3 linked regions of the Homo sapiens genome follow. The protein of the gene in region 1 interacts with the protein of each later gene in a pairwise test. Each region holds a gene or a part of one and is shown on either strand. Other genes may lie near its edges. The genes, in order: FBP1, KLRC2 and PCNX4.

The links.
Region 2: the proteins of FBP1 (region 1) and KLRC2 interact in a two-hybrid assay, tested with the Homo sapiens proteins (one large-scale study listed by BioGRID and IntAct).
Region 3: the proteins of FBP1 (region 1) and PCNX4 interact in a two-hybrid assay, tested with the Homo sapiens proteins (one large-scale study listed by BioGRID and IntAct).

Annotation. Positions count from the first base shown.
Region 1 is NC_000009.12:94,611,954-94,615,609, reverse strand, and holds part of FBP1 (fructose-1,6-bisphosphatase 1), read left to right. Parts: intron 1-3,656. UniProt on the Homo sapiens protein: Catalyzes the hydrolysis of fructose 1,6-bisphosphate to fructose 6-phosphate in the presence of divalent cations, acting as a rate-limiting enzyme in gluconeogenesis. Plays a role in regulating glucose sensing and insulin secretion of pancreatic beta-cells.
Region 2 is NC_000012.12:10,433,816-10,437,571, forward strand, and holds the start of KLRC2 (NKG2-C type II integral membrane protein), read right to left. Parts: upstream 2,196-3,756; 5' UTR 2,172-2,195; coding exon 1,985-2,171; intron 1,596-1,984; coding exon 1,497-1,595; intron 716-1,496; coding exon 671-715; intron 128-670; coding exon 1-127. UniProt on the Homo sapiens protein: Immune activating receptor involved in self-nonself discrimination.
Region 3 is NC_000014.9:60,094,859-60,098,514, forward strand, and holds part of PCNX4 (pecanex-like protein 4), read left to right. Parts: intron 1-3,656.

The sequences.
Region 1 (3,656 bases):
CAACAATTTATCCATTTTCCAAGTCATGCCAAGGAACATACCATTTCTGTTGTAGACATGGAAGAATGCAATTTTCCTTGCAAAATATCAAATCCACAGAATAGCAGGAGAGGTTTGTAGCAAAATTCTTCCTTGCAGAGGAAGACATCTGGCTAATGTGTTAACCACAACTAAAGCAGTGTTGATGTTTACTAAGCCCATTCTCCATCTCAGTCCCCCCAAATAATACTTTTTAAGGAAAAAAAACCTGGGAAATTGAGAGACATTGGCTATCAACTAAAAAAAAAAAATCAAGCCAGCTTGCAACAGCAGCTTGAATTATGAATGACAGAATTCTCAACAATAAGGCTCGGCTGTCTTCTCAATGAACCAGAAGTGACTTTTTTAAAAGACAGAAAGTGGGGCCTGGTGCGGTGGCTCACCCCGGTAATCCCAGCACTTTGGGAGGCCCAGGCGGGCGGATCACGAGGTCAGGAGATTGCGACCATCCTGGCTAACACGGTGAAACCCCATCTCCACCAAAAATACAAAAAATCAGCCGGGTGTGGTGGCAGGCCCCTGTAGTCCCAGCTACCTGGGAGGCTGAGGCAGGAGAATGGTGTGAACCTGGGAGGCGGAGCTTGCAGTGAGCCGAGATCGCACCACTGCACTCCAGCCTGGGTGACAGAGCAAGACTCTGTCTCAAAAAATAAATAAATAAATTAATTAATTAATAAAAAGAAAGTGATGATGAGTATGACACAGACCTCTAAGTCATTTCAGTTTTTTGAAGCCTTATTGATTGCTTGAAACAGCTGAAACCAGTTGAGGGCTCATGAGGCATAAACATAGACATCTATAATGCTTCCAAGGGGATTTTTCCTGCTTTCTGCAGAGATGATTGTTGGCTAGAATCGCACCATGGTGCCCACGCCCAGTGGGGCAGCATCAGTAACTGTGACCCTGCCATGGTGACCAGGCCTTGCTACACGATTCCTGGAAAGGCACGTGGAAGGATGTGTGGTCATGTTGCATGCAGCTCCTGCCACAGCATCTTTCCAGGGCCTACCGACTACTACTATTTCTTTTTTGAGACAGAGTCTCTCTCTGTCGCCCAGGCTGGAGTGCAGTGGCGCCATCTCAGCTCCCTGCGACCTCTGCCTCCCTGGTTCAAGCGATTTTCCTGCCTCAGCCTCCTGAGTAGCTGGGACTACAGGCGCCCACCACCACGCTTGGCTAATTTTTTGTATTTTTAGTAGAGACGGGGTTTCATTGTTTTAGCCAGGATGGTCTCGATCTCCTGACCTCGTGATCCGCCCACCTCGGCCTCCCAAAGTGCTGGAATTACAGGCGTGAGCCACCGCGCCCGGCCACGACTACTACTATTCTTTCTCTTTCTTCTCCCTGTCCCTCCCCCTTCTCCCTCCCTCCTCCTCCCCCTGCTCCTCCTCGTCCCCCCCTTCCTCCTCTGCCTTCTTCCCCTCCTCCTTCTCCCTCCTCTTCTTCTTCCTTTTCTTCCTTCTTCCTTTTTCTTTCTTTTTTTCTTTTTTTGAGATGGAGTCTCCTGTGTCGCCCAGGCTGGAGTGCAGTAGCACGATCTCGGCTCACTGCAAGCCCTGCCTCCCGGGTTCACGCCATTCTCCTGCCTCAGCCTCCCGAGTAGCTGGGACTACAGGCGCCCGCCACCACGCTTGGCTAATTTTTTTTGTATTTTTAGTAGAGACGGGGTTTCACCGTGTGTTAGCCAGGATGGTGGCAATCTCCTGACCTCGTGATCCGCCCGCCTCGGCCTCCCAAAGTGCTAGGATTACAGGCGTGAGCCACTGCGTCCGGCCTTTTTTTTTTCTTCTTTTTTTTCTTTTTTTTGAGACAAGGTCTCACTCTGTCGCCCAGGCTGAGAGCAGTGGCGCCATCATGGCTCACTGCAGCCTCACCCTCCCGGGTTTAAGCCATCCTCCTACCTCAGCCTCCTGAGTGGCTGGGACTACAGGTGCACCACCACACCTGGCTAATTTTTGTATTGTCTGTAGAGACAAGGGGGTCTCGCTATGTTTCCCAGGCTGGTGTTGAACTCCTGGGCTGAGGCGATCCTCCCGCCTCGACCTCCCAAAGTGTTGGGATTACGGGCATGAGCCACGGTGCCTGGCCCCACCAGTGTCTGGCTGGAGACATCCTGACAGGGCGAATTCTCCTGCAATGCTGGGTAACCATCATGGTTTGTCCAAATATTGAGTTGAAATCTGTTTCATTTTGCTCACTTGGCTGTTTAGAGCATAAGAAAATAAGATTCTTTGACATGTTTGGAAACAGTGTTTCTGCCCTCCCAATAATGCCCACCACACCCACTTTTTTTCCCTTTAAGCTGAACATCTTTCACAGGAGAGGGATCTGAGACTTCTCTCTAGCCTGATCACCCTCTACTGGACATACTCTAACTTGCAATGTCCTTTACAGCTCCCACCACAAAAGCAGAGATTCAGAAAAGTAGGGTTTGGTTTCTGCTCCGAGGAAAGACCACTGTGGACGTGACAGTCTCTCCTCCCCCAGGCCCTCCGTTTCTGTGCCTACTTCTCCTTATGTGATGACATGGAATAATATGTGATGACATGGAGCCAGTGCCTACAGCAGGTGGTGGCCTCAGATAGGCAGAGAAAGGAAGGGTCCAGAGGTTTCTGATTTTGCCAAGTGCTCCGTGCTCATTGGTCCCTGGGCATCTGCAGGAGAATGGAATATGTTTCCCTTGGAGGAAAGGCATGCATTGCTGAGCATTTGGAGGAAGGAATTAGAAAGGGGGCTGATCCCAGCTCTTTGGGAGGCTGAGGCAGGCGGATCACCTGAGGTCCAGAGTTCGAGACCATCTTGGCCAACATGGTGAAACCCCATCTCTACTAAAAATAAAAAAAAAAATTAGCCAGGCGTGGTGGTGGGCGCCTGTAATCCCAGCTACTTGGGAGGCTGAGGCAGGAGAATCACTTGAACCCAAGAGGTGGAGGTTGTAGTGAGCCAAGATTGTGCCACTGCACTCCAGCCTGGCGATAGAGCAAGACTCTGTCTCCAAAAAAAAAAAAAAAAAAAAAAAAATTGGGGGCTGGGCTAGAAAAGAATTCCTCCAAATCCATGGCTCAGTGGGATAATTTTCTCTTCGTTTTGAGTATGTGGGTCATAGACAAGTATTACTATTATTTTTTATTCCGTGCGAGGAAGTGTATAAATGTAGAGCATTTGGTGACCGTATGTCAGGGAAGGGCTGTTTACTTTTGCACCTTTGCCACAGGCCGGCACGGATGGTTCTGGGCGAGGTGAATCTCTGGGAAAAGGGGCCTTTATTGGCAGAGAACTGGTTACTTGAAGCCTGCAGTGGGAGGAGAGGAGAGTTAGAGTCCTGAGTCCACCCACTGTGTACCTGGCTTCAAGGGAAGCTGGTGATTGTTAAAATGAGCCTCTGACAGGCAGCGCATGTTGACAAAGGCCATTAATTTCATTTTTCAAGGTTGTGCATTGGCAAAACTTGGAATTATTCCCTCAAAGTTTTGATCCTGTAAGTTTAGTCTGTGTTTAGCTCCACTGTACTGTCTGGTGAATACAAACCAAACTGAATCAAATAACCCAGTGCAACCAGCTAACTAACCACCTCCCCAGGTGAAAACTAGGAGGGGCAGGGAAGCGGTGGAAAGAAA
Region 2 (3,756 bases), on another chromosome or scaffold:
AGCAGACTGGAGTTCTTCGAAGTACAGGCCAGCAAACTCTCTTCCCAAGTTCTTCTTTCCTTACCAATGTAATAACAACTGTTGGAATATGTAATCCACTCCTCAGGACAATGGCCACAATGACGTGCTAATAAAGATATGAATTACTATCTAGACCAATATGAATTTTTAAAAATGAAAATTAGTTCACATATTTCAACAGTATAAACATATATGTGCTTAACATATTTACGCATCCTTACAGGCTTATAAATGTATATTTTTAATAACTGAGTCAGTCATACACACATGCACAGACAAGGGTTAGCCTCTCCTCCCTAATTGTGTTCCCATATAAAGCAAATGAACAAACAAAAATACACTCTACACATGTGTTGAACATCGCTGATACACAACTGCTTTTTTAGAATAGTAAAATTATTTATTTGGTATCATCTCACAGCAGTAGGAAACCTCTGTTAATTGGGAGAAAGAGGGTAGAATGATTTTAAGTGAGTATTTCTACTCACTGGAGAAAAGGAAATGCTGCCTCATAATCTTTCTTTATAAATATTTATGGCTGAATTTATGGCTTATTTTCTGCAAAAATGCCACTATTCTTTTACATGCCTTAAAACAGACACAAAATATAAATTGTACTAATATCAGAACATTGAAAATAAAAATGTACCTTTCTGCGTTCTTGTATTCGGGGAAAAATTGTTCTGCTCCAGGACTGTAATAGAAAAATTAAAATGATTTTTATAAAAACTGATATCTAGATAAACCATAACGAGTTTAGTTTCTTACTTTGAAACTTTGTGTGTTATTTAAAATGGGGAGAATCTTTAATAAAATTAACTTTTTCTATAAAAATATATAAAGTAATAGACCTTTGAAATAAACATTTTTAAAGACTTTAGCACAAACTTCACCATCTCTTGTAGTATTTGATGTAACCACTTTCAAAAATTAATTTGTTTTTCTAAATACTTTTCTTCTATAGCATGCCTTTGAATTATGAAATCAGAAAATATCTTTGTGTGTGTATGTATATACATATATATAGATTACACACAAAAAATAAACACATGTTCTCTACAATGATTTTGTTATTTATGTTGTGAAAAATTCAGAATAACCATATTACTTTTGGTTCCAAATTGTACTAATATCAGAACTTTGAAAATAAAAATGTACTTTTCTGGGTTCTTGTATTTGGGGAAGAATTGTTCTGCTCCAGGACTGTAACAGAAAAATTAAAATGATTTTTATAAAAAGTAATATTTAGATAAACCATAATGAGTTTAGTTTCTTACTTTGAAACTTTGTGTGTTATTTAAAATGGGGACAATCTTTAATAAAATTAACTTTTTCTATAAAAATAAATGAAGTAATAGATCTTTGAAAGAAACAGTAAAATAAGAGTTCTATTCTTCAACAGTATGAAATATTTTGAGGCACTTCCAAGCATTAAAGTAAAACGTTCCCTTCTAATCTTTCAAGAATATGCTTACAAGGAATAAGAACTATTGTTTTTAACACAGTGGCCATCAGGACAATGCAAATGATTCCTAGGACCTCGGCAGTGAGCTTCTCTGGAGGTGGCAGTAAACCTGCAGGGAGAGAAATAGAGGCACTGAGAGAGGGGAGATAGAGAGTTGATTAGGATTACATACTAGAGAATTACATACTAGAGAACCCACATGCACAGGGAAACATAATGATAAACTCTGGCCTCTAAATCTACATCTACTCTAGTAATCTTTCTCTCAGAATATACCATTTCATTTTCAGTAAATATAATGTTCCATGAGTGGACCGCAGATTACAGTTGAACAATGCCCGAATAAAATTAGTCTTCTGATTTCATATTAGAATTTTAGATCCCAATTATGAACTCCGATTCTCACAAGTGCAAAATATTCCCTAATCTTTCCTCACCCTTCTGCATTCAACTGCACATCCTAGAACAATAATATTGAAGATATATTTAATGTTTTACCTTGGCAGTCATATATTTTATCAATCCCTTGATGATTCAGGGAAGGATTTTGAAGATTTAATTCTACTTGGAATATTTCCTGTTCGGTTCCTGAAATGGAGCTTTTATTGCCTTTAGGTTTCCTTTGCTGCCGCTTTGGGTCCTGGGCCAGACTCACTTCTGAGAAGGTTCCTCTTTGTTTATTCATCTCTGCAGCTGTGTGATGTGAGGGACTGTGCTCTATGATAACTGCACTTAAGAAGCTATAAATGGTGTATATTTTGACAGGATCCCTGGTATAGGCAATGTGCATGTGTTGGGGCTGAGTAATAATGTTTACTTTGCTGTTAACCAATGTAAAATTCTGCTACTAATTTCCTAAAGCTTTAAACAAAAATCACACGATATAATTGGCAATTTTTTAGATGTATTCTGTATTTGACATAATATTACTAGTGGGAACAATAAAAACATTAAACTTATGAGAACTAGGAAGTTCATGAAAAATTGGTATTAAATTAAGGTTAGATTCTTCAAAAATGTTTAACACCAATAGACTGCATATGTCAACAATCAAAATACTGTATTTAGAAATACACAAATTTTATCATAGTTTTAAGAGTCATTGATGGTTAAGGATTGTGTGCCATAAGATAAAATAGTTCTGTCAGCATATAGAGTATCTTCTTATACTAAAATACATTGTTAGTGACTTACATTCATTTATTAAAAGGACCTGAGGTATTGTCAAATGATTTTTTTTCTAAATTAGGAAATCAGAAAAATCATTAAAATTTTAAAAATATATCTTGTAAAACATTACATTACTGTATGCATAAATATTATTGAAAACGTATTTTTAAATTGCTGCTTTTACACAAGAAATTGGTAATTGATTTAATGACTAAAATAGGAAAACTTAAAATGATAAATAAACGTGTGGGCCGTCTATGGAAGAATAGTGTCCAATCAAACTTTCAGAAAGCTCCTATGATTGTATAAGTCAGTGAGGGTTGCTTTGGTTGTATAAGTAATTGTAATAGTTCAGATAATGTAATTTAATAATCTAGTCAATGAGCTCTGTAGTCAGTGAGACTACAATTAATTCTAGCTTTGCAAGTTGTAATATGTGACCTGTACTAAATTACTTAGTGTCTACTAACCTAGTTTACTAATCTACATTGGGAAAAATAATTTATAAAGTATAATGTATGTAAAAAACTAAACACACAACCTGGCACATGTTACCACTGAATACATAATAGATATTTCAACTATTTTTAACACAATTGCCATTTTATTATTTCTGATTTGCATTAGAGTGTGTTAAAATAACTCATTAATTAGGCGTCTCATGTCAGTGTGGTACATCTTTTTTGCAATGTTTGGTTCAATTGTTTTAAGTCTTCCAATTGTTTATAATTAAGGTCAGATTTGCATTTTATGGAAATGATTTCATCCTTACTTTTATTAAAAATTAAAACTGCTTTCATGAAATCTAGGTGTGTGATTGAGAATTAATGTTTGACATTCACAATTTGATGTATCCATATTAAAAATTTATTTTTAAAGTTTGGTCTAAATATAATATACAAAATGTAATGGTTACAAAATCCAAAATTAATTGTTCATTGTCATGATGGTTATGGGTTTCACTCTAAATTACATGGATTGGCAAACCTATTATTATGTATGCATCTACTTGAGTGATTCTCCAGCGGCAATGATGTGAATACTCTAAGAAATCCTTAAACATAGTTTATATTTTGGCTCGTTTTTCACCTTGAATTATT
Region 3 (3,656 bases), on another chromosome or scaffold:
AACTGACATTGTATCTTGGTTAAGTCACTTAATATCACTGGTTCTCAGGTTTTTTTGTAAAATAAATTAATTTATTTCTAGTAATTCATGTGAGTAGCAGACTTCATTCACCTGATACTTGATTTTAAAAGAAAAGTTTTTCAACCCAGGGAATTTATAGTGGGTGTCAGTCGAGAAAAATGATGGGACAAGTCTCAATCATTTTAGGAGATTTATTTGCCAAAGTTAAGGACGTGCCCGGGAGGCAAGTCTATGTCTTTCTTCGAAGATGATTTTGAGGTCTCCAAATTTAAAGGGGAAAGGGCAGGATGTTGAGAAGTACACAATTGTCATGTAAGAGGTGGGTAGGGGCAAATAGTTATTTATGCCTTTGGCTCAGTGAATCTGCATTTTTTACATAAGATGACATAAAAGGGGCAGAGGAAAATATTAGGGGAATCTGCATTTTACATAAGATAACAGACAAAATGGGGTAGGGGAACAATCAGATTTGCATTTATGTCTGGTGGGCCAGGGGTAACTGCACCTGTAAGCTGTCAATTGACATTGCCAGGATGAAATTTTAGCTCACTGGGAATTTCCCTGTGGGCAAAATATAGGGGAGGTGTGTAGCTTTTCATCTTGTAGCCATCCTATTTAGAAACCAAAAGGGGGGAGACAGGTTTGCATGACCCAGTTCCCAGCTTGACTTCTTCCCTTTGGCTAAATGAGTTTGGGGTCCCAAAATTTAATTTCCTTTCACATTTCCCTTCTTTTTTCTGTAAAATCTTTTGGAGAAAGCATTTTAAAAGGAAGACGAGTTCCTGGCCTCAGGTTGGTTTTTCCTCCCTTTTTTGAGCTGCTTTCTTATTGCTAGGATGGTTTATTCCTAGAAGTTCAGGTCCCCAGTCTCTAGGAAGGCTCATTTCTAAGAGGTCATGTCCCATGAAGGTTAAAAAAAAAAAATAGGAAGAGGAAAGAAGTAAAAAAGGAAAGGAAAAAAAAAGAAAAAATATATAGGGACCTAGGCCAGATTTATAGCAACAAAAGGAAATCACACCTGGAAGCTGGGTCAGGCTATATTACTGCCTTCTCAATTAGAGCAATTCTCTAGGGAATCATTACCCTAGCCCTTTCAGTTCATTGACATATTTGCAGGCACATAACCATAACAACACTGTAAGCAGAAACAGGACACAACACAAACTATTATTCCTAATATAAGCAATAAGCTTCTGTCACCAAGTTTCCCAGGATCCAAACCCACCACTCAACTGATTGATTAACGAAGGTTTTGGGTGTGACAGATATCTGGGTTTTCATATCAGTCATAAGTCAGATTATGTTCTTCAATTCATCTGGAATATAAACACAACATTCCATTTTTATGATGGTGCAGGTCCTCCCTTGTGCTGCCGTGAGTCTATGTAAAGCCATACGGTTTTGCAGCACAGCTTTCCTCATAAGCATGACTTCCTTGTTTAGCAAGGAAATACTCATGCAGCTATCATTCAGGACCTTTTGGGAGTAATTCACTAAAGCCTCTATATGCCATATAACATCTTCAGTACCTATCTGTGGTACAAAGATTGAAGCTAAGTGGTCATACCATTAGAATACCAAATGTGTCCAACAAGATTGTAAATGAAAAAGGTTTGCTGGTTTTGGCAGGTCTGAATTACTCGTCCTTGTGCCCAGGCATAACATAGGGAACATTGTCCTAACCACTCTGGAGGTAACCACGGCCATAAGTTAGTGCCACATAGCCAATATGTCCCATTTGGAGCTAGCCAATAAATAACTGATCATTGGCACCCAATGGGTGGCAAGCCATTCAGTGTCTTGTAATATGATAGTGTGGTCACAGCGTTCTCCAGGTATCCACCCCATATCTCTCGTACTGTTTGGACATAGGTCCTTGGTGTGATTTCTTTGCTCCCAACACAAAGCATTTTGGCTGAGTTGGCCAAATGAAGGGGTGAGCCAGATAAATCAATACCAATTTAAAAGGCCTGTGTAACAAATAATTATTCTTGCTGTACTGTATCCAAATAATTAAGCCAAGTATAGTAAAGCAAACCAGTCCTACCATGACTTGTCTTTTAATAAGTGGGAAACTGGAGAGAGAAAATTATGTTTCAAAAACTGTAGCACACCTGTTGTTAAATTCTAGTCTTGCCTCATGTTTTCCAATTTTTAGTATTTTCTACAGTTTAAATTCTGATTTTTCTGGCTACAAGTTTCTAAAATAAGTTGTGCTTCCTTAAAGTCCTATGAACTGAAAACTAGATGTTTTATCAGGCGCTGCCTCTAAACCCCCCAACCATCACAGAAGGAAATCTCTTCACTGCTGGCATTGACAACTAATAACTGAGGGTGCCCGGAATCCTTCACCCCATGTCTAGTGAGTCTACGGAACCAGGGTAATTGAGACAATATCTGTTACAGGAATCAACTCCTGGATACATCACACTTGAGTCAAAGCCTGGAAAGCTGAGGAAGCAACCCCTGAGAGCCCAAAGGAACGTCCTAAATATAATGGAAATTATTTACTACGCCTTGTGGGAATTGCTTTACTCTACTATTTGCAGTAGGACTATATACTATAGCACCTTCAGGGTGGAATATCTGACAGGGAATCTCAATTGCTGTAGCATTTTGCTTAATTATTATCCTCATAGCAGGAATAACTGTTACTAACAAAAGATAATATGTGGGCCTTTCCAAACATGTGCCTCTGCCTCTCATTAGGTAGGGAATGTTGTTTCTATCTCAACCAATCAGGCCTAGTAAGAGACTGCTGAAAAACTTAAAGGTCTAAAAAGCTAAGGGAATACCAAAACAACCAGACAGATTCTTGGTTTGGGAGCAGAATCATAGCATGGGTCACCCCATTCCTGGGCCCTCTCCTAATAATATGCCTAGGACTAATGTTCTTACCCTGCCTAATTAACCTTTTTCAAAGATTTTTAGCTGACAGACTCATGACCATTTCACACACAACTACCCAAAAACATCTACAGTGTTATTTCTGCAGTCAATCCAAGACCCAAAAACTGTCTGTCCCCTTGTCAGCAGGAAGTAGCCAGAAAGAACACACTGCCCCTCGTCATTTTTATAACTACAGGGTCTGGATTGACAGAGCAGGAGCATCACCCTCTTCGACTTCGACGAGGACCATCATTTTAAGTTTCACCTTGATCAAAACCCACCAAAATCCAAAGGGCATCAGCCTTATGGTTAAGGTCAGCATGAACATAAATCACACAACATCTCTGACCAGAAACATTCGAAACCCCTCCCGGACCAGAGACATGCCAGCCCCGAGATAACCTTCCCCCTGGCTGGAGAGATGTCAGCCCCAAGATAACCTCCCTTCTGACCAGAGACATTCCAACCCTACCATAAGCTTCTCCCCCATGCAGAAACATTCCAAACCTGTAATAAGTTCTGTCACCAATAAATACTGTAAGTCTGTAAGAGAGAGCTTTCCTGACTGAAATCAGCCAGAAGCCTCTCTCAGGTTTATTCTCCAAAACAAACCTGTCTTTGACTGTTGAGCCACTTTGTATTTCTTTCCTCTTTAACTTACACTGTGACCTTACAAAACACTCTTATTCAAAAACCCTCCAAAAGTCTTGAATTTGAGTGAATACCTTTTTATAGATCCAAAGAGA